Linked DNA regions of Homo sapiens: regions 2 and 3 are each linked to region 1. Evidence: fine-mapped expression QTL. A gene starts in region 1. Each other region holds a variant in brackets. All regions are shown on one strand. Distances are from middle to middle. Region 1 holds the start of SFXN3 (sideroflexin 3). Region 2 overlaps TLX1NB (TLX1 neighbor). Region 3 holds the start of LOC105378453 (a long non-coding RNA gene).

Region 1 (8,177 bases):
CCAAAGATAAGGGGATTTCCCTCCTATCTTCCTGGGACTCCACTTTGAGCACCTCTATCCTTGCAGAGGGTGACCCCGCAATGGGATAGATCCCTGTAGAGGTTTGTGATGCATAGAGCAGCCCCTCCCATAAATATCAATGCCATCTTCTCAACCCAAATGCCCTAAAATCCTTTGGGTTAAAGCTCTGTGATGCCAACAGACGGGGCTAGAGAGTGAGGGGATTGAGGGACAGGGTCACTGTCAAGCTTGAGGAGGCAGGTACAAAACATATTATATTAATCACAGAAAATGAGATCCTGGCACACAGGGTCAGATTGAGGGGTGGTCACCTGTAGTTCTGCACGATGTTCCGAGAAGCTTCCAGCTGTGCCCCGGACAGCAGCAGATTTCGAGGATCAGTAACAGTGAAAAAGTGCCGGGCTCTGCCCAGGAAAGTACTTTGGTCCCAGCGAGGTTCCTGGATGTTGATGTCTAAAGGCAATTCACCCATTTTCTGCAGGACAGAGATAAGGGTCAGAGCGGGAGTCCAAGGGTCCAAGGGCTCCAGCTAGGGGAAATCTTTGGTGCCCCTGCCCTGGCCCCTGAGCTTATCATCAGTCCCTTCAAGAGCTCAAGGTGACTAGATGTAGGGAAAAGAAAGAGAGATCAGACTGTTACTGTGTCTATGTAGAAAGGAAAGACATAAGAGACTCCATTTTGAAAAAGACCTGTACTTTAAACAATTGCTTTGCTGAGATGTTGTTAATTTGTAGCTTTGCCCCAGCCACTTTGCCCCAGCACTTTGACCCAATCTGGAGCTCACAAAAACATGTGTTGTATAAAATCAAGGTTTAAGGGATCTAGGGATGTGCAGGACGTGCCTTGTTAACAAAATGTTTACAAGCAGTATACTTGGTAAAAGTCATTGCCATTCTCTAGTCTCAATAAACCAGGGGCACAATTAACTGCGGAAAGCCACAGGGACTTCTGCCCTTGAAAGCGGGGTATCGTCCAAGGTTTCTTCCCATGCATAGTCTGAAATATGGCCTCGTGGGATGAGAAAGACCTGACCGTCCCCCAGCTTGACACCCATAAAGGGTCTGTGCTGAGGTGGATTAGTAAAAGAGGAAAGCCTCTTGCAGTTGAGATAGAGGAAGGCCACTGTCTCCTGCTTGCCCCTGGGAACTGAATGTCTCCATATAAAACGCGATTGCACATTTGTTCAATTCTGAGATAGGAGAAAAACCGCCCTATGGTGGGAGGTGAGATATGTTTGCAGTAATGCTGCCTTGTTATTCTTTACTCCGCTGAGATGTTTGGGTGGAGAGAAACATAAATCTGGCTTACATGCACATCTAGGCATAGTACCTTCCCTTGAACCTAATTATGACATAGATTCTTTTGCTCACATGTTTTTTGCTGACCTTCTCCTTATTATCAACCTGCTCTACTACTACATTCCTTTTTGCTGAAATAATGAAAATAATAATCAATAAAAACTGAGGGAACTCAGAGACCGGTGCCGGTGCAGATCCTTGGTATGCTGAACGCCGGTCCCCTGGGCCCACTGTTGTTTCTCTATACTTTGTCTCTGTGTCTTATTTCTTTTCTCAGTCTCTTGTCCCACCCTACTAGAAATACCCACAGGTGTGGAGGGGCAGGCCACCCCTTCAACTAGGTAGGTAAGCAAGGGTGTGGGGAGGAGCTGTTTCCTGGGCAATGTCCCAGCCCAGGGACCTGCAGCCACTGGAGGAGGGGGAAGGGAAGACCAGAAACAGGAAAACAGATCTCCTTGTGCTCTATCCTGGTACAGATTTTCATGAGTGAGGATTTACATATATGTGGTTGACACATAAGCAGCAACAAACATCCCAGCCACGTGTGCTACAGATGCACAAGAATATATAATATATATATTACACACCCATGCTCAGGTGAGCTTTAGGCCCCAGCTGCACTGAGACCTGGATACAAACCCCCAAGGCTGTTTTGGAAAATGGCACAAGACATCCCACACTCCAGTCCCTGATTGGAGGAGAGCAAGGCCTTACTGGCCACCCAGGGCTTATCTGTTCCAGATCTCAATCAGGGGACTCTGATGTCAGCCATGTGTGTGCATGTGGGCACGCACAAGTCCTCTCTACAGACCCATTTTTCTCCAACTCACACTGAATGACCCCAGGCTCTCCCTGGTCCCTGGCCAGGCAGGGCTGGCACAGACACTCATCCACCTCTCTCTGGGCCACTTGCCTCCGGATAAGAGCAGGATTCAGTGGCTGCTCCCTCCACCCAGCACAGAGAGGAAAGCCTGGTGCAGCCATCTGGCTGAGTTGGGCAGAATCCTACAGAATGACTAATCCTCTCCAGCCACACTTCCTCCCGCAGAGGCAGAGACGCCCTCCCCTCACACTCACATACCCACACACAAAGACACTATCATGCACACCCTGCCCAGACATACAGACAGAGTGGAGGTGTCCTGTATACACCGGCCTTCAAACACCTTTACAGGCGCACACTGTGCCCATCTGCAGACACTTGAATGTGTGACTACACACAGCCCCACCCTGACATTCCTCCCCCCAACCTCCCTTGTGCCCTGTGGACTTGGACCTCCACAGAGCCGAGGACATTGACTGCACCAGGACAGACAGTTTCAAGGCAGGCCTCCTTCTCTGACCCCCATTCCAGAACCCCGCCCGCCGGGGAGAGCGAGCACTTACGCTTTCCATCGCTCTCTGAAGCTCTCAGAACCGCCTTCCTCTCTGCCTCCGCTGTCGCCGCCGGGCCCTCCCAGCCATCACGCGGGACGTCACGCGTGACGCCGACCAGCAGGGAGGGGCAGGAGCTTCCCGGCCGCGCCCACCCGGTGGGCACGGGGATTGGCAGAACCTGAGGGCGGTGGGTGTCATTCGAGGCGATGCCCCCAGCCTGGGCCACCTGGACCAGGCCCTAAGCTGCTTCCCAGAGCCAATCCCACCTCGGGGATCAGTTCTGGCCCCCTCCCCAGCCAAAGGGAGGAGGGGCTGGAGCCGCGGGCGCTGCTCCCTTGGTTTACAGTCCCCTGGCGGGCCTCAGCAGACCCCCAGCCCTGCAGCAAGCGGTCTAGGTGCCCAGAGAGAAAGCCCCGGGCGCAGGTGGGCGGTGTGGAGGGGCGGTCCTCTGCTGGCGCGCCGGGAGGGACTCGGGTTACCGCCTGGCTTGTTTACTTGATGGCTGCCTTGGCAATGGCCTTTGGCTTGCTTGTCCCCCTGGGCTCCTACCCCAGTATCCACAAGCTCCTCTTGTAGCAGCGCGGCATTCGCATCACTTCACAGCCCCGTTCCTGTCGTGCCTGTGCCTCTTCTATGTCCCCAGCCCTCTCCCTGCTCCCCCTCTGTAACCCCTAGCTCCACTGTGTCCCTGGTCTCCTTACGCTCCCAACCCCTAGCCCTGCACCCCAGACCGTAGCCCCACCCCTGAGATGTGGAGGGGCAGACGACCCCAGGAACCTCGCGGTCTGCATCCGAGCAAGTGCATCAGAAGGATTCTTAGGATTCTTCCGGTCCTGGGACCAGCTGCCCCACCCTGCGACCATTCCAGAACTGGGTAGCCAGAGACGCCTTCTGACAGAGGAGGAGGATGCAAGTGAAGAAGGCACCCCCTCCGCCACGCACATACTCACAACTCACCCAGCCACCACACAGAGCACGCCTGCAGCAAACTCAGGCTCACGTCCCGCTCTGCCCCGTGACGTCCCTCCACGGAGGCCTCAAGGGTGCCCAGGGAGGGGTGGCAATTCCAGGAGCCCCGGTAGCTGGCTCGGCTCAGAGAAGAGGTGGTTCGAGCCGGAGGGGAACAAGCCAGACCCAAGCCCTAAATTTGCGGAATGAGCTAGGGCGTCAGAACCAGAACTGGGGTGGGTAAAGAACTCCGCTGCCCGGGACCAGGTAACGCTCGGCTGTCCCTGGCGCCTAAGGGAGGTGCCGGAATAGAATGACTGGCGGCCCTACCAGCCAATGGGAGCCCGGGGCGGTGCAGGCCAGCCCAATTCCCGCAGCCTCCGCGCAGCGTGGGTGGGGTTTGCCGGCTGCGGCAGTAGCTCTCGCCTGCGGGTGGTTTGACAAGGCTGGCGGCGCCACACCAGCGACCAGGTGAGGCCGACCAGGCACAAAGGGGTGGGGGGCCTGGAGGGCCGAGTTGATGTTGGGGTGCTTCATTCTAGGTCCCAGAGCTTCTCTGAGGGAACTGGCCCTGGGTTTTGCGCGGGATGTCGTGGGACCCCTCTCCAGCAGATCCTCCCCAAAGCTTGGGAGAGGTTCATGCAGCCTCTTTAGACCCGGAGCCGCAGCCTGGAGCCCGCGGGTGTCTGGGGGTCTTCCTGGGCCTCAGCTGTCTAAGGTCCTGAAGCCCTATCCTCGAGGCCCAGCCCGCCCCACGCAGCCCCCGCCCCACCCCGGGCCACCTCCATGCCCGCATATGCATGAGAGAGGTGATGCCATGAGCTGTCCTGACCTCTCTTTTGTCTCACACCTCTCTAAGCCCCAGGGCCCGCAGTAATCCCAACTCCACTCTCAACCTCTACTGAGGACTGGGGACGGGAGTAGATGACTCAGCCCCGAGCAGGAATGAGGGGTGAAAGGTTCCCACCTGCCTTGTATAAAGTCAGCGAGAGTCCAAGATGGTGCCTGGACGGGGCAGTTCTCTGGCCTAGGGTGAGACAGGAGGGGGGCCTAAGGCATGGGAGGGCAGGATGCTTAAACCAGGGGGAGGGGTGGAAGTTTTAGGGGGCAGCAGGGGAAACATTTACACCCCTCCCTCATCCCTGCTCTCCCTGCCCAGGCCTGGAGCTCACACTTCTGAGAGGCATCGCAAGCGAGGGCCTTCACGTTACTGAGACCCCAGCCCCGCACAGAGGCTCATGGAGCTCGAAGCACGCAGGGCTGGCCTCTCCAGAGCTAGCAGATTCCTTCTGGACCTGTAGGGTGCCGCCCTAGCCCAGCCGCCATGGCGCAGGGTTTCGCAGTGGGCTTCGACCCACTGGGCCTAGGAGACCTGAGCTCCGGCTCTCTGAGCTCCCTCTCCTCCCGAGGCCACCTAGGCAGCGACTCAGGCTCCACCGCAACGCGATACCTGCTAAGGAAGCAACAACGGCTGCTGAACGGGCCCCCCCGCGGAATCCGAGCCTCATCGCCCATGGGACGCGTCATCCTCATCAACTCCCCCATCGAAGGTAGGGGCGGGACCCAGCCACTGGCCTGGGTTGGGGAGGGTGGGGGTAGGGGACAATGGGAACTCAGCAGGAGGAGGCAGAGCCAGTATGATTGGGGGAATTCAAGAGATGGGAGTCACAGGGAGGTGGCAGGCCGCCTGGGAACCCATACACTCTTCCTCACCTGCCCTTGGCCTCTCCTCCAGGCCAATCCTGCAGGGGTCCAGGGTCGTAGAAGGGTCAGAGGAGGGAAAGAAGGCCATGGCAGCAGGGACAGGCATGCGTGTGGTATGCTAGCCCCTGGTGGACAAGGCAGGGGATTGAACTGGCCTCTCTCCCATGGGCTCTGCCCTTCTCCAGATCCATTGTGTGTACTTCTGGGGGATGGGGCAGGATAAAGAAGGACATCCTCCATCAACCAGTCCATTGTGTGACAAGCTCTGTGCTGGGCTGCGAGGAGTCAGTGCCCAAGCGGGTAGACAGAATTCAGGGCTTCCGTGCTGAAGGAGGGGAATGAAGGCAGCACAGCAAATGTTCAGAAGAGGAGGGTTGAGGGTGGAGAGGGAGCTCCATCAGGGAAGGGGAGACCTAAGCTTATGTAGTTGCTTAATGCCGCTTCATGGAGCACAATTCTATACCAGCCCTGGGGAGGTGTTACAAGGGACCTAGAGAGAAATCAGGCTCCCTCTTCACCTTCCAGGAATCTACAGTGTAGCAGGACAGAGCAATAAGAACAGCTGGTGGCAGGGGTGAGCTGTCACCAACAAAGGCTGGAAGTGAAAAGCATGGAGCATGGTAGGTGGGCACTTAGGAGCCAGCCTGGCTGTAGTGACAGATGTGAGGTGACTAACAGCTGATGAGCAAGACAGGACCTAGAATGCCAGGTGCGGAGCCAGGCCCCCTGAGTCTGAGCTTTCTGTGAGCAGGACCAGATAAATATCTCCAGCTCCTCTCCTCTTTCTTAGCCAGCAGAGCTCCCCTGGCTGGATCCCAGACTGGACTGTTCAGGCCCTGCTCCTCCCCCTCTGACCCAGCAGGGCATCTCTCTTCCCCTCCCTAGGCCACTGGAGCAGGGTGGGGCATGTTGCTCAGGGAGCAGGCTTTCCTCCACCAGTGCCCTGGCACGCTCACCCCTGTCATACACCAGTCTATGCTTCACCCTCTGGTGAGCACAGGGCACTGCTGAGGGTCACCACGGTCATTCTGGTGAGGGAGCAGAAGTCCCCAGAGGAGTTAGGAGACATTGGGGAAAAGGGAAGCAGGCACCGCATAACTGTCTTTATTAGTCCCATTCTATTAAAAGAACTATGCTATACTCCCTCTGATACACTCTTTCTGTTTCTCTCTCTCTCCCCTTCCCTTTGCCCATGTATGATGCAAGCGCTGTTTATAACGTCTTTTTTTTTTTTTTTAAGAGGGAAAGGGTCTTGCTCTGTCGCTCACCCAAGCTGAAGTGCAGTGGTGTGATCATAGCTCACTGCAGCCTCAAACTTCTGGGCTCAAGTGATCCTCCAGCCTCAGCCTCCTGAGTAGCCAGAACTATAGGCATGCAACACCAAGCCCAGCTAATTTTATTTTATTTTATTTTTTGTAGAGACAGAGTTTCACCATGTTGCCCAGGCTGGTCTTGAACTCCTAGGCTCAAGTGATCTTCCGGCCTCAGCCTCCCAAAGTGCTGGGATTATAGGCATGAGCCACCATGCCTGGCCTATACTGTCCCTCTAAAGATCCTCTTCCAGGGGTTTCATGATTGCTTTCTCCCTCTGCCTCATGCTAGCGCCACTGTGCAGCCAAGGAAGCAGCATCTCCTAGCAGTGAGGGACTGAGGAGTTGCTCTGACCACTTGGCTTCTCCTCTGACTGGACTGGGACCCTCTGAGCTCAGAATTCTCCCCTCTGCCTGAGAACAGGTATCTCCCAAGTCACCGCAGCCTGGAACCCTGCCCCATGTTATTATTTAGATCACTCCCGGGGAGTAAAGTAACTGATAAGGAATAAACGGTGACATTGCCACCTACATCGGCCCCATGAGATCCCACCAGCTCCTTAAATTCAACTGGTCCCAGAGAAAATGCATTACCTTTAATCCAGGAAAGCATTACCCTTAATGCATTTCTCCTCACTCTCCTAGTTTGACCATCCATCCATCCATTTATTCTTTCACTTATTCAAAAAAAATACCTATCAAATACCAAGCACTGTCCAACATATTGGAGATATACTAGAAGAGTATTACGAAGTCCCCACCATGATTGAACTTATGGTCTAGTGAAAAGAGACAGATAAATCACAAATAAGCGAACGACGACAAAGGATGGGAAGAGTCAGAATGTGATCATCTGATGACATGATAGAATGGTGCTTCTCAAACCTCAGATGCCTCAGAATTGCCGGGAAGGCTCATTCAGGGATAGATTGCAGGGCTCAGTCCCAGAGCTTCTGGTCCAGTGGGTCTGTGGTAAAGCGAAGGAATTCCCGTTTTTAGCAAGTTCTCAGATGACACTGACGCTGCTGATCCAGGATTACGCTTTGAGAAGCCCTACAAGAGGTACTCACTGGGAGGAAGGGAGGACACTCCAGGAAGCCTTCTCCAAGAAAGTGGTGTCTGAGCCAGGAGGGGAACGAGGAAGAGGAGCTGACCTTCTAAAGGCCTGGGCAGGAGCACTGCAGGCAGAGGGAACACTGGAAGGGCTTGGCCTCCATGAGGAACAGGAAGATCAGTGTGGCCAGAGCTCAGTGAGGGAGGGGAGGGTGGAGGGGAGGGCGGAGGGGTGGGCAGAGGAAAGCCCAGGCAGGGCCTTATAGGGCATGGTGAGGAGACTGGAGTTCTAGAAGCAGGAACAGGTGTTGAAGTTTTTAATCAGGGAAAAGACATGAGCTAATGTAAAAGCTGACTCTGGGTACTGTATAGAGAATAGCTAAAGGCGGCAAGAGTGGAAGCAAGGATAGTGCCGGGGCTGCAGTGGAGCACCTGGGGGAGAGGCTGGGGCAGTGGAGGTAGAGAA
Region 2 (8,177 bases), 76 kb before region 1:
CATCGATGGTGGGATGCAAGCTAGATGTGTGTCTCTCCTCCACTCCCAGGGCTCCCTGTTAGGATGGGAGCTCTGAGCAAGCCCAGCTTCCTCAAGCACTCCAGATGCTCGCAGTTACCAAAGTTAAGTGTCTACAAACAGACTGAAAGGATGGACAGAGCCACAAAGCCCCTCTAATGGGGGAAGGGTCAGACAATGTTCCTCCTTTTATTATTATTATTATTATTATTATTATTATTATTATTATTAACTCCTGGCTTCAAGTGATCCTCCCCACTTGGATTCCCAAAGTACTGGGGTTACAGGCGTGAGCCACCGTGTCTGGCCACCTGCTCCTCCTGTTAAAGGGATGAGAAACATTAACATGCTCACGTAGATACACAAAATAAAAAACATTTGTTGAACACCTACCATGTGCTGGGGGATGTTCTAAGAGTTTTACATGACTTAGTTCACTTTAACCTTCACAGCAATCCTATGGAGTAGGTATTATCCCCATTTTATTTTTTTATTTTTTATTTTTTTATTTTAGAGAGGCGGGCAGCTTGCTCTGTCACCCAGACTGGAGTGCAGTGGTGCCCCACCATGCCTGGCTAATTATCCCCATTGTTTTTATTTATTTATTTATTTTTGTTCTGTGGAGATGGGGTCTCACTATCTTGTCCAGGCTGGTCTCAAACTCCTGGGCTCAAGCTGTCCTCCTGCCTCAGCCTCCCAAAGTGCTAGGATTACAGGTGTGAGACACCTGGCCTAATTGTCCCCATATTAAAGACAGAATGACTGAGACACAAAGAGGCTAAGTAACTTGCCCAAGATCATATCTCCAGTAGATACTGAATTCAGGATTCAAACCCAGGCAGCATGGCTACTGACAGCGTGCTCTTCACCACCGCTTTACAATATTTGCATAATTCCCCTGAAGGATATACACAGCCACTCATATTTAGGACAGGCCACCTCACATACATAATTGTGCATAGAAATACATCATTACCTAGTTGTTTATCATAACTAACATTTATACAGCAATTTATTTACAAATCACTTTCACACCCAGAAACAATGCCCAGTGAAGGATGGGTTGTTAACTATTTAACAGATAACAATTAAGACTACGTTTACTGACTCAACTGGGGCTCAGCTATTTGGCTGGGAGCGGTTCATCTTTTCTTTTCTTTCCCTTCCTTTCTTTAAATAAAAATAAAGCATGCTTCATAGTAAAATTAAAACAGGACAAAAGAGAATAAAGTGAAAAGTAAAAGGCTCCCTCCTTCCTCCTGTTATTCCCATTTCTGGAGGTATGCCCTTCCAAAAATTGTCAGTGCACACGTAAGTAAACAGTAATAGAGATTATACATGGCTTCTCATTCTTGCGAGGAAGTCTTTGTGGAGAACCCCTTGTTCTCCTCATTTTACACATTAAGAAATCTCTGGCCGGGCACGGTGGCTTATGCCTGTAATTCCAGCACTTTGGGAGCCTGAGGCAGGTGGATCACGAGGTCAGGAGTTCAAGACCAGCCTGGCCAAGATGGTGAAACCCCATCTCTACTAAAAAATACAAAAATCAGCCGGGCGTGGTGGCAGGCACCTGTAATCCCAGCTACTCACTCAGGAGGCTGAGGCAGAGACTTGCTTGAACTCAGGAGGCAGAGGTTGCAGTGAGCCGAGATCGTGCCACTGCATTCCAGCCTGGTCGAAGAGCAAGACTCCATCTCAAAAAAAAAAAAAAAACAAAACTCTTAAGAGTGGGGTACTGCGTTTTATTTTTATTTTTTTTTGAGATGGAGTCTCGCTCCATCCACAGGCTGGAGTGCAGTGGTGTGATCTTGGCTCACTGCAACCTCCGCCTCCAGGGTTCAAGCCATTCTCCTGCCTCAGCCTCCCGAGTAGCTGGGATTACAGGCATGTGCCACCACACCCGGCTAATTTTTGTACTTTTAGTAGAGATGGGGTTTCGCCATGTTGGCCAGGCTGGTCTTGGACTCCTGACATCAGGTGATCCGCCTGCCTCGGCCCCCAAAATACTGGGATTACAGGCGTGAGCCACCGCGCCGGCCCGGTACTGTATTTTAACAAGCTCTCTAGGAAAAAAGTGGCATAGCTCTCCAAGGCCACTCAGGTACTAAATGGAAGTTAGGATTTCAGCCCAAGTCTTCCCGACCTGGAGCCCATGTCCCCCACTGCCCTTGCCCCAGGGCCCATTGCCTCCTCCATCCCCTGTTGGCACCTGCTGGCTCAACACCCCTAGAGCCAAGACTCTGCTGCTCTGAGCCTTTCAGGGTAGGGCGAGGGCCGCGCTGGAAAAGGACATTCCCTTTGGAAACTTAATCTAAGGGAGGACTTGCTGAGCTAAGCCCTGCTGAGGGGGAGGCCAGGGAGCAGGCCTGGGGACTTGACTGAGACCCAGATCAGCCAAGGGATGGGCTCCCAGGATGCCCCCTCAAGCCCCCGGCAGGCTTCACTGCGGCCTTGAGGGCTATGGAGAGTGGCAGGTAACAGGCCTCAGTCTCCACAGTAGCTCCAGCCAGGGACTCAGGATAGGGAGAGGAGGCGGGGTCTGGGGCTCCCAGGGAGAAGAGGGGCCTGTAGATGAGAACTGCAGCCCCCCAACAACATCCGCCTCTGGGAGAGGGACTGAGCGGGGGCAAGAAGAGTATCATTTCCAGCTTCTGGGGTGAAAGGGGGCTCTGGAAGCCCCTGCCCCTGCTGTGACCCCTCCTGGGTAAGTTTCCCCAAGGGCCGCTCAGACCCGTCCTCAGCTCTTCCATTCAGGGCCTGGGTCCCTGGCAGGGCTGGGACCTTAGGAGACAAAATTGCTAAGACTCAGCCATAAACCCAGCTGCTGAGGATGTATGTGTATTTGTTACGAATGTCTCCAAGTGGCTGGCCACAGTGGTGCCACGGCATTCTGACCCAGGTGGCCTAGGCTGGTCATGCAGGACTTTGCTGGGTCTTGCGTGCCTCAGGCCTGGACCCAGTCCTCACACCTCCCGTCCTAGTGTGGAATCTGGAGAACAGGCCAGGGCCAAGGCCAGGATGGAACCTATCTTCCCCCAGAGGACACTTTGGAACAGGGTACTCAGTGAGGTGCCCCCTTCCTATCTGGCCAAGAGGGAGCTTGCCAGGAATCAGGGATTCCTGAGGTCAGTACTCGGTGGAGGGAGAGACAGCCACGGTGAGACTTGCAGAAGCCAGAGGGAGACTGAGATTGGACTCCTCTCTCCACAATTTCCAGGCCAGGCCAACCCAGGGGACAAGGCAGGCCTCCCTGAAAGCCCACCCTCTCCCTCCTTGGTTCATGGCAGAGCCTCCCCAGTCCCTATCACCTTAAGGATCATGCCTGCACACCCTAACCTAGACATGCTACCTTTGAAGCGCCACAGCTCTGTTGTGATCAAGGTGGGCCTGCATGGGACACCCCGCTTCTCTCTCGGATGCAGTAGCACTGCACTGGGCATCAGAGGGCATAGGACTGAGCATAAGCTCAGCTTGGCTTCTAACTGACTGAGGGATTTTGGACAAGTCACCTCCCTACTCTGAGCTTCAATTTGGCCACCTGTAAAACATGAGAGTTGAACTTCATTTCGAATCGTGGGAATCTGGGTTTGAGCTGGGGAGTGTGGGGTTGGCCATGGGTGTTCTTCTTGGTGAACAGAGCAAGGAGCAGAGTAGAGACCCCTAGGAGATATTACTGGTCAAGAAGAGAAGATGTATGTGTATTTGCTATGAGTGTATTTATGATCATATATAGTATGTGACGTGTACATATACATGTGGAAGCATAAATACACATGTAAGGGTGTGTGTGTGTGTTTGTGTGTGTGTGTGTGTGTTTACGGCAGCAGCTAATTGATCCCTGCCTCCCAGTTGCTGTGGGGGAAGGGGCCGAGAAGGCAGTCACTCATTAGAGGCAACTAATGGGCCCAAATGGCCTTGTCAGCAAAGGCTGAGCTTAGATGAGCTTCCTCCCGAAGTGGGGAAGGAAAAAGATGTGAAATAGAAAAAGGAGGGGAGAAGAGAGCAAAGAAGGCGGGCAGAGGCCTCAGAAAGAATGAGGCTTCCCCAGGAGAAACTACAAGGATTGCAGTATCCTCACTTTATCCCTGTTAATAAATATTCCTCCTGCCAAGAGAAAAAGTTCCTGCTTTTTCTGACCCAAGGAAGTAGAGGGCAGAAAACTGTCAAGGGAAGAAAGGCAGACACATGTGTATTCCCATGCCCACAAGCACAGGTGTGCTAGCTGCATGCATATGGCCACACTGAGACGCAAGCATGTGGGCTATGTCGATGTGCAGTCTCAACACTTGTCATGCACGTGCTTACCCAGAGACACCCCCCCCACACACCAGCCTGAGCATAGGGAAGTGTGGGCATGTGCCTGGCACGGGAAGGTGTATGCGCATTCACCCAGGGGTGCTGGCTCTGTGTTGGTGCAAGGGAGACAAAAATGAGGAGGACACAGTCCCTGTCCCCCAGCTGACATTTTATTTTATTTTATTTTATTTTATTTTATTTTATTTTATTTTATATTTATTTTGTTTTATTTTTGAGATGGAGTTTCGCTCTTGTTGTGCAGGCTGGAGTGCAGTGGCATGATCTCGGCTCACTGCAACCTCCACTTCCTGGGTTCAAGTGATTCTCCTGCCTCAGCCTCTTGAGTAGCTGGGACTACAGGCGTGTGCCACCACACCCATCTAATTTTTTTGTATTTTTAGTAGAGATGGACTTTCACCATATTGGCTAGGCTGGTCTCGAACTCCCAGCCTCAGGTGATCTGCCCACCTCAGCCTCCCAAAGTGCTGGGATTACAGGCGTGAGCCACC[G/A]TGCCTGGCCCTCCAATGGACATTGTAGTTGGGAAGAGGTTGCTTGCTAAGGAAACGGATCATTTATATGATGACACAGGGTGTACTGGAAAGATGCCCAGCGTGACTGTAGTCCCCGCTACTTGAAGGGTGACATGGGAGGATTGCTTTAGCCCAGGAGGTCAAGGCTGCAGTGAACCCTGATGATGCCACTGTACTCCAGCATGGGCAAGAGGAGGAGACACCATCTCTAAAGAAAAAGAAATTAAATTAAAATAAAATTGTGTGTGTGTGTGTTTGGTCTGTCACCCAGGCTGGAGGGCAGTGGCAAGATCATAGCTCACTGCAGCCTCGAACTCCTGGGCTCAAGCAATCCTCCCACCTCAGTCTCCAGAGTAGCTGGGACTACAGGCACACATGCCACCATGCTTGGCTAAATTGTTTATTTTATATTGTGTAAAGATGGGAGTCTTGCATGTTGCCCAGGCTGGTCTCAAACTCCTGGCCTCAAGCAATCCTCCTTCCTCGGCCTCCCAAAGTACTAGGATTACAAGCATGAGACACTGCACTCAGCCAAAATACAACACATATTAATAACCAGAATTAAGAATTTCCAACACATTAATAAGAAAAATATTTTTGAAACCCCAGTTTTTAAAATAGGCAACTGGGCACGGTGGCTCACCCCTGAAATCCCAGCACTTTGGGAAGCTGAGGCAGGTGGATCACCTAAAGTCAGGAGTTCAAGACCAGCCTGGCCAACATGGCGAAACCCTGTCTCTACTAAAAATACAAAAATTAGCTGGGTGTGGTGGCAGGCACCTTTAACCCAAGCTACTCGGGAGGCTGAGGCAGGAGAAGCTCTTGAACTTGGGAGGCAGGGGTTGCAGTGAGCCCGGATCGCCCACTGCATTCTAGCATGCATGACAGAGTGAGACTTTGTCTCCAAAGATAAAAATAAAAATAAAATGGGCAAAGTATATGAAGAGGTGACTTACAGAAATAAAAACACAATGTCCAATGAACTTAGGAAAATATGCTCAACATGAGAGAAATGCAATCATAATTTGAGAACTACAAATTAAAATAGACATAAGATTTGTTTTAGCTTCATCCATTGGATTAGCAAAAATTCAACGTACTGACAGTATCCAGCATGGGAGAGAGTGTGTACGTAAGTTGGTCTTCTCATCCTCTCTTGGAAGTGCCCTGAATTGGTTCAGTCTTCTTGATAGGTATTTTGGCAGTTTCTATTAAAATTAACAATACCCATCTTCATTTGACCAACTCTATTTCTAGATATCCATTATCCTAACAAAATAGCCATGTCTGCCCACAGAACCACATACCAGAGAGTTCACTAAGCAAATTTACAACAATGAAAAATCAGAAGCAACCTAACAGTCCACCAGTGGGAATGGGTGAATAAACAGTGGCACCCCCATCTATGGAATACTTAAGGTGAAGCAATTAAAAATAATGAGGTAGACCTCCATGTTCTGATATGGGAAAATGTGCATGCCATATTTTCATTCCAAGCCATATATATAGATAGATAGATACATTTTTTTTTGAGATGGAGTCTAGCTCTGTCACCCAGGCTGGAGCGCAGTGGCACGATCTCAGCTCACTGCAACCTCCACCTCCCAGGTTCAAGTGATTCTCCTGCCTCAGCCTCCCGAGTAGCTAGGATTACAGGCACCCGCTACCATACCTAGCTAATTTTTGTATTTTTAGTAGAGACGGTGTTTCACTGTGTTGGCCAGGCTGGTCTCAAACTCCAGACCCCATGATCCGCCTGCGTCGGCCTCCCAAAGTGCTGGGATTACAAGCGTGAGCCACCGCTCACTGGAAAAGCAAATTGCAGAAAAACAAAAATACTCAGGTACAAAGGTAAAAACCCAACAAAAAAATCGTATGTTTCTCCTTGAATAATATATACATGTAGGTAAATGCGTAGGAAATGATCTAGAAGGATACACAGTGAATTGACCACAGCAGTGACCTCTGCAGATGATTCTGGAATTGGAAGGATTATTTCATCTGTATTTCTTACAACAAGAATGCATTTTTAGTTTACTTTTGAAATTTAAAGTAAATTTAAATAAATGTGGTTCATTTGAATAAATGAATTAACAAAAGTTTCAGCAGTGAGTCTTGACATACACAAACACGAGGCACTAAGATTTTTATTCATTGCATGAAGAAAGAGGCCCCTTTTTGGCAGCAATTCTGCTTTAGCAAATGTCACAAGGACCCGCCTCCCATTCCACCCCTGGAATGTTAAAATTGGGGGCTGTCTAGACTGTTAGAGGGCTAAAGACCTTCAGTTTACACAGGTAAGGAAAGATGGCCAGGGCCCAAGTCATAGCTTCAGAAAGATCACAAAAGGCCCATGGAAGGCGGAGAGTGGCAAGGTGACTGTATTCTTGTTTGACTTGCAATTTGTCATCTTAGGGACAAGTCCAGGCCCAGGGGCTCATGGCTGTACTCACAGCACCTGGATTCGGTCCTAGTAATTCATGATAAATATTGAGTGACTGCTGGCACTAACAGTCACTTACATCAGGCAGCTCTTTGCAGTTGATACAATCCTGCCTTGCACATTTCCTCATTTGTTCCTCATAACCTCTGAGAGGTAGCTTCTACTGCCATCCCCATGTCACAGATGAGGAAACTGAAGTTCAGAGAGGTCAGACTTGGCCACGTTCACTCAGATAACAAGAGGCAGAGCAAGACTCAACTGCAGTCCTTTTGACCTCCTATCCCTAACTCCACTGTGGCAAAATCCCCCTGGGGTTACCATCTGCTCCCTCCCTCAGCTTTCTGGGTATGAGCCTTAGCCCTGGCCTGACATTTTCTCTGGGAAAAATCCAGTGAGGCTGATCCTAGGCAGAGGACTTAACTGAGCCTTGGTTGCTGATGAGGACTATGACAGGCAGTGCAGTTCAGTGGTGAAGATGCACGAGGCTCCAGTCCCAATTCCTAGCTGAGTGACCTTGGGCAAGTTATTTAACATCTTTGCCTATTTCTTCATCTGTAAAATAAGAATAGGAGAACCTGGCCAGTCACAGTGGCTCACGCCTGGAATCCCAGCACTTTGGGAGGCTGGGGCAGGTAGATCATTTGAGGTCAGGAGTTTGAGATCATCCTGGCCAACATAGCGAAACCCCATCTCTATTAAAAATACAAAAATTAGCCAGGCAGTAGTGGAGTGTGCCTGTAATCCCAGCTTCTCAGGAGGCTGAGCAGGAGAATGGCTTGAGCCTGGGAGGGGGAGGTTGCGGGTGAGCCGAGATCGCACCACTGCACAATCTATCTCTTGGAGATGTGAACATACACTGAGATAATACATATAAAGTCCTTAGTTTGGTG
Region 3 (8,177 bases), 250 kb before region 1:
GGCTGAGCTTCTGAAAGGCAGGGCCAGCCCTAACCACAAATATGCTCCACGATAGCAGGAGAGTGCCGGGCTTGGGGAGTAGTGGCCTCTGAAGGGCATGACCATGAGGGCCCTCATGAAGTGTGACTAGTCTTTGGAGACAGGTGGTGCAGGCCCTTGAGGGGCTATAAGGATGAGCTGAGGGGGCCAGGACTGGGTCAGAACCTATAGGGTCAAGGGAGACCAATGAGAAGATGGAAGAGTTCTGGAAAGGCTAGAGGACCTCATCAGACCTGGCTCTGGATTCAGCTAAGCCTGCTTGTGGCCAGCAGTCAGTGTGGCTGAGTCTAGCACCCATGCTAGCCATGGCTGAGGCAAGGGGAAGGATCATGTCCTCTGTGCCCACTGGGGTGTGTCAGGCAGTCCTTGGAGGCCTTTAGTTGTCTTGGAATCCCTTTGGTGCACATTTATGGTTGTCCCACTTTGCCTCACCCTGTGGGAATGCCATGATGGGCAAGAAAGCCCTTAGAGAGCCTACAGTCTAATGTGGAATAAAGAACTTAAATAAAGACTTAAATTTTTTTTTTTTTTTTTTTTGCTTTGGAAAAAGTAGTGTTGCATAAGCATATACCGCCTGGATCAAAATCCCAGCTGTGCCATTCACCAGCTAAAGTTTGTGAATTCTCAGGCCCTCCTTTCCTCCGTCTGTAGGATAGGGGTACCTATCTCTTAGGATTGTTGTGCAAATCTTAGGAAAAGTCCTTAGAACAGGGCCTGGCCATGGTAACATAAGTGTTGGCTCTCCTAGTCTTTCCTTCAGTTTTGTAGTACAGAGCCTTTGGAAAAGTCTCCCTCTTGGTGTTAGCAGAATTAAGGTAAACAAGGACTTATTCACACCTTGGACAAGATAAGGGGGTGGTTAGAAGACCCTGAGAGGTTGGAGTGTGGTGTGGAGTAGAGGCAGGGAAGGGGCCAGCTTGGGGGTGTGGGAATCCTGGTGTGGGACCGATGGAGCAGTGAGATAGGTTCTTTCTAGGTAGAGCTGAGGGGGCGTACGACAGAAAGGCCCTCTGCAGAGCCCAGCACACTTAGGACAGTTCAGTGCTGCTAGCTCTGCCCCCTCTCCCTGGAGGGACAGCCTCTGCTGGAGCTGCTAGCCCATAGATGTCCAGGGGGGCTGCACGGGAAGATGTCCACCACTACAGGATAATCTCCCTGGAGGGACACCCCCTGCTGGAGCTGCTAGCCCATAGATGTCCGGGGAGGCTGCATGGGTAGGTGCCCACCACTACAGGATAATCAGCACCTCCGCTCTCCTGAGATGGGCCTCTCTAAGCTTCCCTCTCCCACCACTTGACCTCAGGACAGTAGCCCCCTCTGCTGGCCTCCACAGAGCTAGACTGGGCTTGCCTTGACCCATGTCCTTTCTTTCCAGCTGGCTCGCTGGCTCTGATATGAGCCAACTTCATGCTGTGGCAGGACTGAAAGCCTCTAGGGGTCTTAGCCCTTGACTATGGACTTCTGGGGACCTCACTGTCCCCGGTTTGTTTATTCAAATCCCATTGCACCAAATGACTGAGCAGCTGCCAGAAGCTGCCGCTTCTTTATGGGACTGGGTGGGAGGGATGAAATGGGGAAACCTTGGTTACTGTCCAGGGAACAAAGGGTTAAGGCAGGTGAAGGGTGCTGGCATGGGAGTGGGTCACCCCCTCCCCTTCCAGTGATTATTCTCCTCTCCAGGTGTTTTTGTGGCTTTTTTCCCCTCCCTTGGGGTGGGAGTGGGGGCTGCTGGGTCCACTTCGGGCTTAGTTATTGTTTTAATTTTGGTGCTGGCTCCCTGGTGCCTGGAGTGGATAATGAAAGAGGAAAAGAGAGGTCAGGGTGGTGCCCAGGCAGCAGATTTCTGCCCGTCAGCCTGGGCTAGGGCGGGTGGGGAAGTGGCGGGCGGGGGAGTGTTAAGTTAATATCAATAAAGCAACTGGAGTCTCAGAAGTGAGGAGCTGCAGAGCCAAGCACAATGTCTTCATGCTAAGGGAGCCTGAAGGGGCACTTTTCCTGTCCACGATGAATTCTTAAAATGGGGCTGGACAGGGGGCAGGAGTCCAGTGAGCGCACAGGCTGGGTGGGCGCAGCTCAGTGGCAAAGGAGTGACAATGAAACCAGGGAGGAGCTGAGCAGAGAATAAGTCTCGGCTCGGTCTCACGCTCAGGCCGCTTGTCAGCTTTTCCTTCTGCATTGCCCTGTATCTGTTCAACCCCACACAGGGCGGATTTGAGGGGGCCATGCTGTGGGGTTACTGGAGATGGTGATAGATAGAAAAAGGAGGCAGGAAAGTATAGGGGTTGAGATGACAAGCTTTGCTGTCAGACAGACTTGGGTTCCTGGCCAAGTTCTGCTTATTGGCTGTGTGACCTTGGGCAAGTTACTGAACCTTTCTGGGCCTCAGATTCCTGTTCTGTAAGATGACACTAATAGTGATGCCAGCTTCGCAGGGTCATTAACATTGTACTCACCGCAGGGTCATTAACATTGTACTCGCCGGGTGCGGAGGCTCATGCCTGTAATCCCAGCACTTTGGGAGGCCAAGGCAGGTGGATCACCTGAGGTTGGGAGTTCAAGACCAGCCTGACCAACATGGAGAGACCCCTTCTCTACTAAAAATACAAAATTAGCCAGGTGTGGTGGCACATGCCTGTAATCCCAGCTACTAGGGAGGCTGAAGCAGGAGAATCGCTTGAACCCGGGAGGCGGAGGTTGCAGTGAGCCAAGATCGCACCATTGCACTCCAGCTTGGGCAACAAGAGCAAAACTCCGTCTCAAAAAAACAAAACAAAAAAACAAACAAACAAGAAAACATTGTACTAAGTGAATTCAGCACAGCGCTTGGCATGCAGTGAGCACTCAATACATGCTAGCTACCCTGTGAAGCCTGTTTCCTCAGCTGTAAAATGGGGATATCCGTTGTAACTTCCCCATAGGGGTCTTATGGGGAGCAAATTAGATAAAGCCTGTAAAGTGCTTAGCACAATTCCTAGTACATAAATAAGCCCTCAATACATGTTAGCTGTCGTTATTATATTATTTTTATCTTTATTATTCCCTGCTGTCTTGGAACTGGTGATTTAGTTGAGGAGACTGAGGCCAGGCCACTCCCTTGGCCATCTGAGGTATTTGGCTTATATCAAAAGGGCTTTCTGAAGCCCAACCCAACTTGGAGAATACTTCTAGTATTTCTTTCATAATCCTGTGGACAGACAGAAAGTCCCCAGGAGCTGAGATGACTGCTGGATGTGCAGGAGAAAGAGACCCACTTGCGTGACCACATTTGGCCCCAGGCGAAGCGTGCCCGCAACATGGCTGTCCATGGGCAGGCCAAGGGCCTCACTCTGGCCCCCACCCCAAAGTTGAAGACCGTGGGCTGGATGAGGACGCTCACCTGTTTTCCTGTGGGGAGGCTCAGTGGGCATGTCAGAGAGAATGTGGGTCTCAGAAAACCCCCACCCTTATCCCATTCCTTCTCCTCCAATTCCTTTTCTTCTCTCCAGTCTGGGGGTGGGGGTGGGGGCTGAGCAGATAGGAAAAAGAGGGTAGTTAATGCTTCCCACTTGACCTTTCTTTCCCCCACCCCCCACCCCCACCCCCAGCGGGCGGGCAGGCTGAGGAGATGAATGGGGTAGAGGGCACGATTTTCACATTAATGGCAGCATAT[G/T]TTGTGTTTATTGACACTGCAGCGTCGGTGCTTGTGGTGGTTGTGGTAGGGGGGTGCCTAGGAGGCCACAGGCAGGAGGGGGCAAGGGAAAGAGGAGGCAGAGGGGAAGGTTGCCGGCGGGCGGGGAGGGGGAGAGGGAAGGGAGCCTGGGGCCTGGGGGGAGGGAGGCAGGAACAATATTGTTGCAGGAGCACACCAGGTGCTCGCTGTCAGCCCGAACAAAAAGGAAGAGTCAGCAACTCTTGAGGGGGGTGGTGAAGAGGCGGGAGCCACCGCCTGCTCCAGCCTCGCAGCTCCAGCCTTGCAGCCTCTCCCTGTTAACCCCTGCTCTGCCATGCAGCTGAAGAGGGGAGCGACATCTGGGGCTCTCCCCGAGGCCAGGAGCTCCCCCCACTGAGCCCAGGAGCTCCCCCCACTGAGCCCAGGAGCTCCCCACAGTCCTGGTCTCCTCAGAACCATCACTTGCCTTTAGTCACCTGGAAGATGCGGCCGTCTCTGGAGTGGGCAGTGGCAGGAATTGCCTTTGCCTTCCCCAAAGCCGAAGGAAAAGAAGCCCCTCTCTCTGGTCCACCCTTTCCATAACAGTTGGGCCTATGTGGTCCTTGAGGAGTTGGCAAACCAGAGTGGCAGGGCCAATGACCTTGGGCTTCTGAAGGCAGCTGTGGGTGGAGGGATGTGAAGAGGGGATGAAAATGGAGGATGGGTTCTCTGCTGGAGGTGGTCTGTACAGACCCCCACAGCTCCTCTCTCTCTGACCTGGCTACAGACTCCTTGCTTCCTGGATGTCTTCCCAGAGTCCTCTTGCCTGGGGCATGGGGAGGAGGAGGAGTTGGCCACATGGTCTGTTCTGTAGACATGTCTCTCAGTTGACTAAGAAGACTGGGCTCGCTGAGTTAGCCTGGAAAGCGCTGGAGGCCCATCCTAAAATATTCAGGTGTGGGGAGGATAGATGGCAAATGAGTTGCCCACCCCAGAACCCCATTCTGGGGGTCTGGGAGGGCCTCCTGGGTTCCTGGCCGGGGAGCAGAGCTGCAGGTGATGTCTACAGCTGTCACCGTACCCTTCCCTGCCTCCCTTCCTCTTCCTGCAAAGCCCTGCATGGAAGCAAGGTACTTAGGACTGCTTGGATGAGCTTCTCCAATTCGCTTTTCTTGTAGCTCCTCTAGGGCTGAGAGGTTACTATGTAGGGGAGGATGGGTGGGAGAGTCCTCCCAGGAGGGGTGACTGGTCTCCTTTCAATCCAAAGAGTCAAGAGGCTTCTACCTCCAACCCTGAAGGCTGGTCTTCTCGTCTGTGATCTGACATTCTGGAGCCGTCAACTCTTGTGTTGGCTATTCTACAGTACATGTCTTGGTCACGCTAGACGCTGGACGAGGGTGCTAGTTCCCCACCCTTGCACAGCGGGCGGGGCCCATAGAGGGGAAGGGTGTCCTTTCCGTATACCCGCCTCCCGCCCCAACTCTGTCTGGCCACCTGAGTTTAGGCGCAGAGGCCTCCGTGGATCTCCTTACCCCGGGCTGGAGGCGAGGCAGGCACGCTGGCCTGGAACCCTCCTCGACACCCTCATCCTGCAGACAGTCAGGGCCAACTCGCGGTACTTCGACCCGCGGCGCAGTGCGAAACCCCGGGGCAGACCCAGCCGCGCAGTGCCCCTCGCCGCTCGCCTCCCGGCTCCTCCCCGGGGTCCGGCCCCGGTTCGCACCCCCCTTCCGCGGCCCTCTCGCCGGGCTCCAGCTGCGCGCGGAGCGGTCCCCGGCTCGGCTCCAGCTCCTCAATGGCCCTGCTCCCCCATTACCCTGATGTCGGCCCTTCTCCCCCTCGGCTTTATCGGCTCTCAGCCGGCTCCGCCAGGGTAATGAGGGCCCTCCTAATTACCATTGCAGAAACTCCACTTACATTAACAGCTCCATCCGAGGAGCGGCAACATCTGCTGTGCGCAGGCAGGCGCCCCTCCCCCGCCCCTCGCTCCCCGCTCCCCTCTTTCCCGGTCCTTTCCCCCGACCTTCCTTTCCATCCTCTCTGGCCCTTCTCTCCCATCCTCCCCTTCTAATCTCTTCCCTTTTCATGCCCTCCCTACCACCGTGGCAGCCAGGTCCTTTTCCACTTCAGCATCCCAGGATGAGAGAGATCCACATGGGGACAGGGCCCCAGAGATACTGAGAGGAGGAGACACTCAGAGGGGCTGGGCCAGAACTCCAAGAGACCCATAATACTCAGGATCCCAGAAACACAGCCAGACAACCCAGGAACAAATAGAAAGTGGTAGCAGCAGAGACTGGGAAGGAGATGGGCTGTGGAATGGGGCAAACTGCCTGTGTGTGTGTGTGTGTGTGTGTGTGTGTGTGTGTGTGTGTGTGTGGTGGTGGGGGCTCTGACGTCTATCGATGTGCAAAGGTATGCGTAGCGTGCATATGTGTGTATGCACTTGTATCATGGACTTTGCATGCTCATTTATTTAAGCATCATGCATACGTGTGCATGTCAGTGTATCTTTACTTGCATATGTATCTTGTGTACATATGCGAATACATCTATTATGCATTTGCATCATGGGTGCAATAATATATATTTATCGATATGTATCTGTGTGTTTGCATTTTGCAAATCTGTATCTGTGTATATGCATATACTTGTCTTTCATATATGTAATTTTGTAGGTGTATCATTCAAGTGTGACTTGTGTACATGTATGACCCAGGTTCAACGTTATGTGTGCACCACGTGTGGATGCATATGTGCCTCTGGGTGTGTTTGCATCTCTGTATGCATGCCTATGCATGTGTGTATCATCTGTGTAATTATTTGATGAGAGAGGGAGCATGTGTGTGTTCCTGCTCCATGGGGGATGACAGGCAGTTGGGAAGACGCTGAGCCCATTTTATCTGAGGTTAACAGGGGTCACATTTCACTCCTGGAAGTCCCCCACCCTCCTCCCCACTGCATACAATTAAGCCTCAGTGTGGTGGAAAGACAGCCAGTAGACATTAAGAAAGGTCAACAGTATTATCGGCTCCTAATCCAATTAGTTACTGTTTATTTGGGAATCCAGCTCCAGGTCAGCTTCTAGGGAGGAGGCCTGGGAGAAAGGAGGGCATTTGATGGGATGAACTGAAAGAAACTAAGATGGCCAGGGCTGTGGATGGCGGGAGCTGTCCCCAAAGCATCGCCAGTTAATGCACCTCCCACTGGCTATTTTGAAGCTGGGTAGGGGTGGGGATGGGCCTGTGCTTCACAGGAGGGGCTGAGACCTGGGGTTTCATCTCTAGAGATTGGAGTATAAAGGAAGGGGAGTTCTCTCCCTCACCTTGAGAGACTTCCTGCCTCTTTCCACCCTAGCAGGTGGACTGAGAGCTGGGCAGCCTGCTTTGGGGGTGTGGGCAGGTTCCCTTGGGATGGGAGAGTCAGAGGAGGAGATGTTGGGAAATGCACTATTAGTTTTTGAAGCCACTTCATTAATCCTGCCCTCTATTTTATTTCCCTTTTTCTCTTCCCACATCCTTTTCTGAGCCCTAGCCCTCTACTCACTCCCACCTCCATGCCAGGACATGCAGGGACCCTAGCTTAGTCCCATAGAGTCCCCCTTACTGAGTATAAAGAGTGGAAGAGACCTAGAACTTGGCCTTGTGGCCTTGGATAGAGAGTGGCCCAGGAACTGAGGTCTCTGGGCAGAGGGGAATTGGTGGGTTGGTCTTTGCCATGCTCTAACCTCTCAGAGATGGACAGTACCCTGGGATACCCAGGTTATGGGGGAAAGTACTAACAGGAGGAAGAGAGTTGGCTGATGGACTCTCAGGCCAGATCCCAGGGGGCTCTTCATGAGCTCAGCAGTTACGGGTCTGCAGGAACTGACCATCCCCACAAGCAGACCATCCCTACATGCAAATCAGAGTGACAGGATTAGCCATGCTCCTCATGGAGCTCAGTGGGGCCACTTTCGCTTGTTTCTTATGGTTAAGTGCATAGGCCTGAGCCCCTAGGAATCAGACTGCTTGTTCTTCCTGGTTCCAGTAGCTTCCTCTCAAGACAGAAACCCCTCATAATCTGCTTTCTTCTCATTGCCTTTTCCAAGCACATATTCATGAAAACACATACACACACACTTATGAACCTGCCTCTGAAACCCCAGGCCAGAGATGACCAGGGAGCGAAGACAGTGACAGTGGTCCTTATTTAAGGACTTACAATGGATCTAGGTGTTTATAGACTTCTCTAAAGGGTGTTTCCCCACTTTCATCCTCCAAAAGATAACTACAGTGATGATCATACTGAAACAATAATGATGATCATACACATTTTTACCCCAGCTGTTCTCACCATTAGCTGAGCATTGAAATCACCCAGAGAAGCTTTTTAAAAATGTACATACCCAGGCCCCACCCTAGATCATGCCAATCTGGATCTTCAGGGCTGGGTCCCTGGAATCCATATATTTTAGAAAGTTCCACAGATGGTGGCTATGGTTAAATAATTCTATCAATTTACAAATTAA

What was found.
Region 2: its variant is fine-mapped to the expression of SFXN3 in sun-exposed skin (GTEx, PIP 0.99).
Region 3: its variant is fine-mapped to the expression of SFXN3 in breast (GTEx, PIP 0.94).

What each region holds. Positions count from the first base shown.
Region 1 is chr10:101,027,011-101,035,187 of GRCh38, reverse strand. SFXN3 (sideroflexin 3) reads right to left here and starts at 3,954. Exons shown (of 12, transcript NM_030971.6): 1 at 3,654-3,954; 2 at 2,706-2,874; 3 at 333-496. The coding sequence starts at 493. PDZD7 (PDZ domain containing 7) reads left to right here and starts at 4,059. Exons shown (of 17, transcript NM_001195263.2): 1 at 4,059-4,115; 2 at 4,804-5,194. The coding sequence starts at 4,969. RefSeq lists an enhancer at 3,432-3,641.
Region 2 is chr10:101,102,741-101,110,917 of GRCh38, reverse strand. All of the region lies in intron 2 of TLX1NB (TLX1 neighbor), which reads left to right. Among named protein-coding and RNA genes, the nearest start is that of TLX1NB, 24 kb to the left of the region's middle. The variant G/A (reference allele first, on the strand shown) is at 4,824.
Region 3 is chr10:101,281,592-101,289,768 of GRCh38, reverse strand. LOC105378453 (a long non-coding RNA gene) reads right to left here and starts at 5,846. Exons shown (of 3, transcript XR_001747306.2): 1 at 5,766-5,846; 2 at 4,445-4,609; 3 at 3,666-4,347. RefSeq lists enhancers at 2,840-3,747, 3,748-4,657. The variant G/T (reference allele first, on the strand shown) is at 3,689.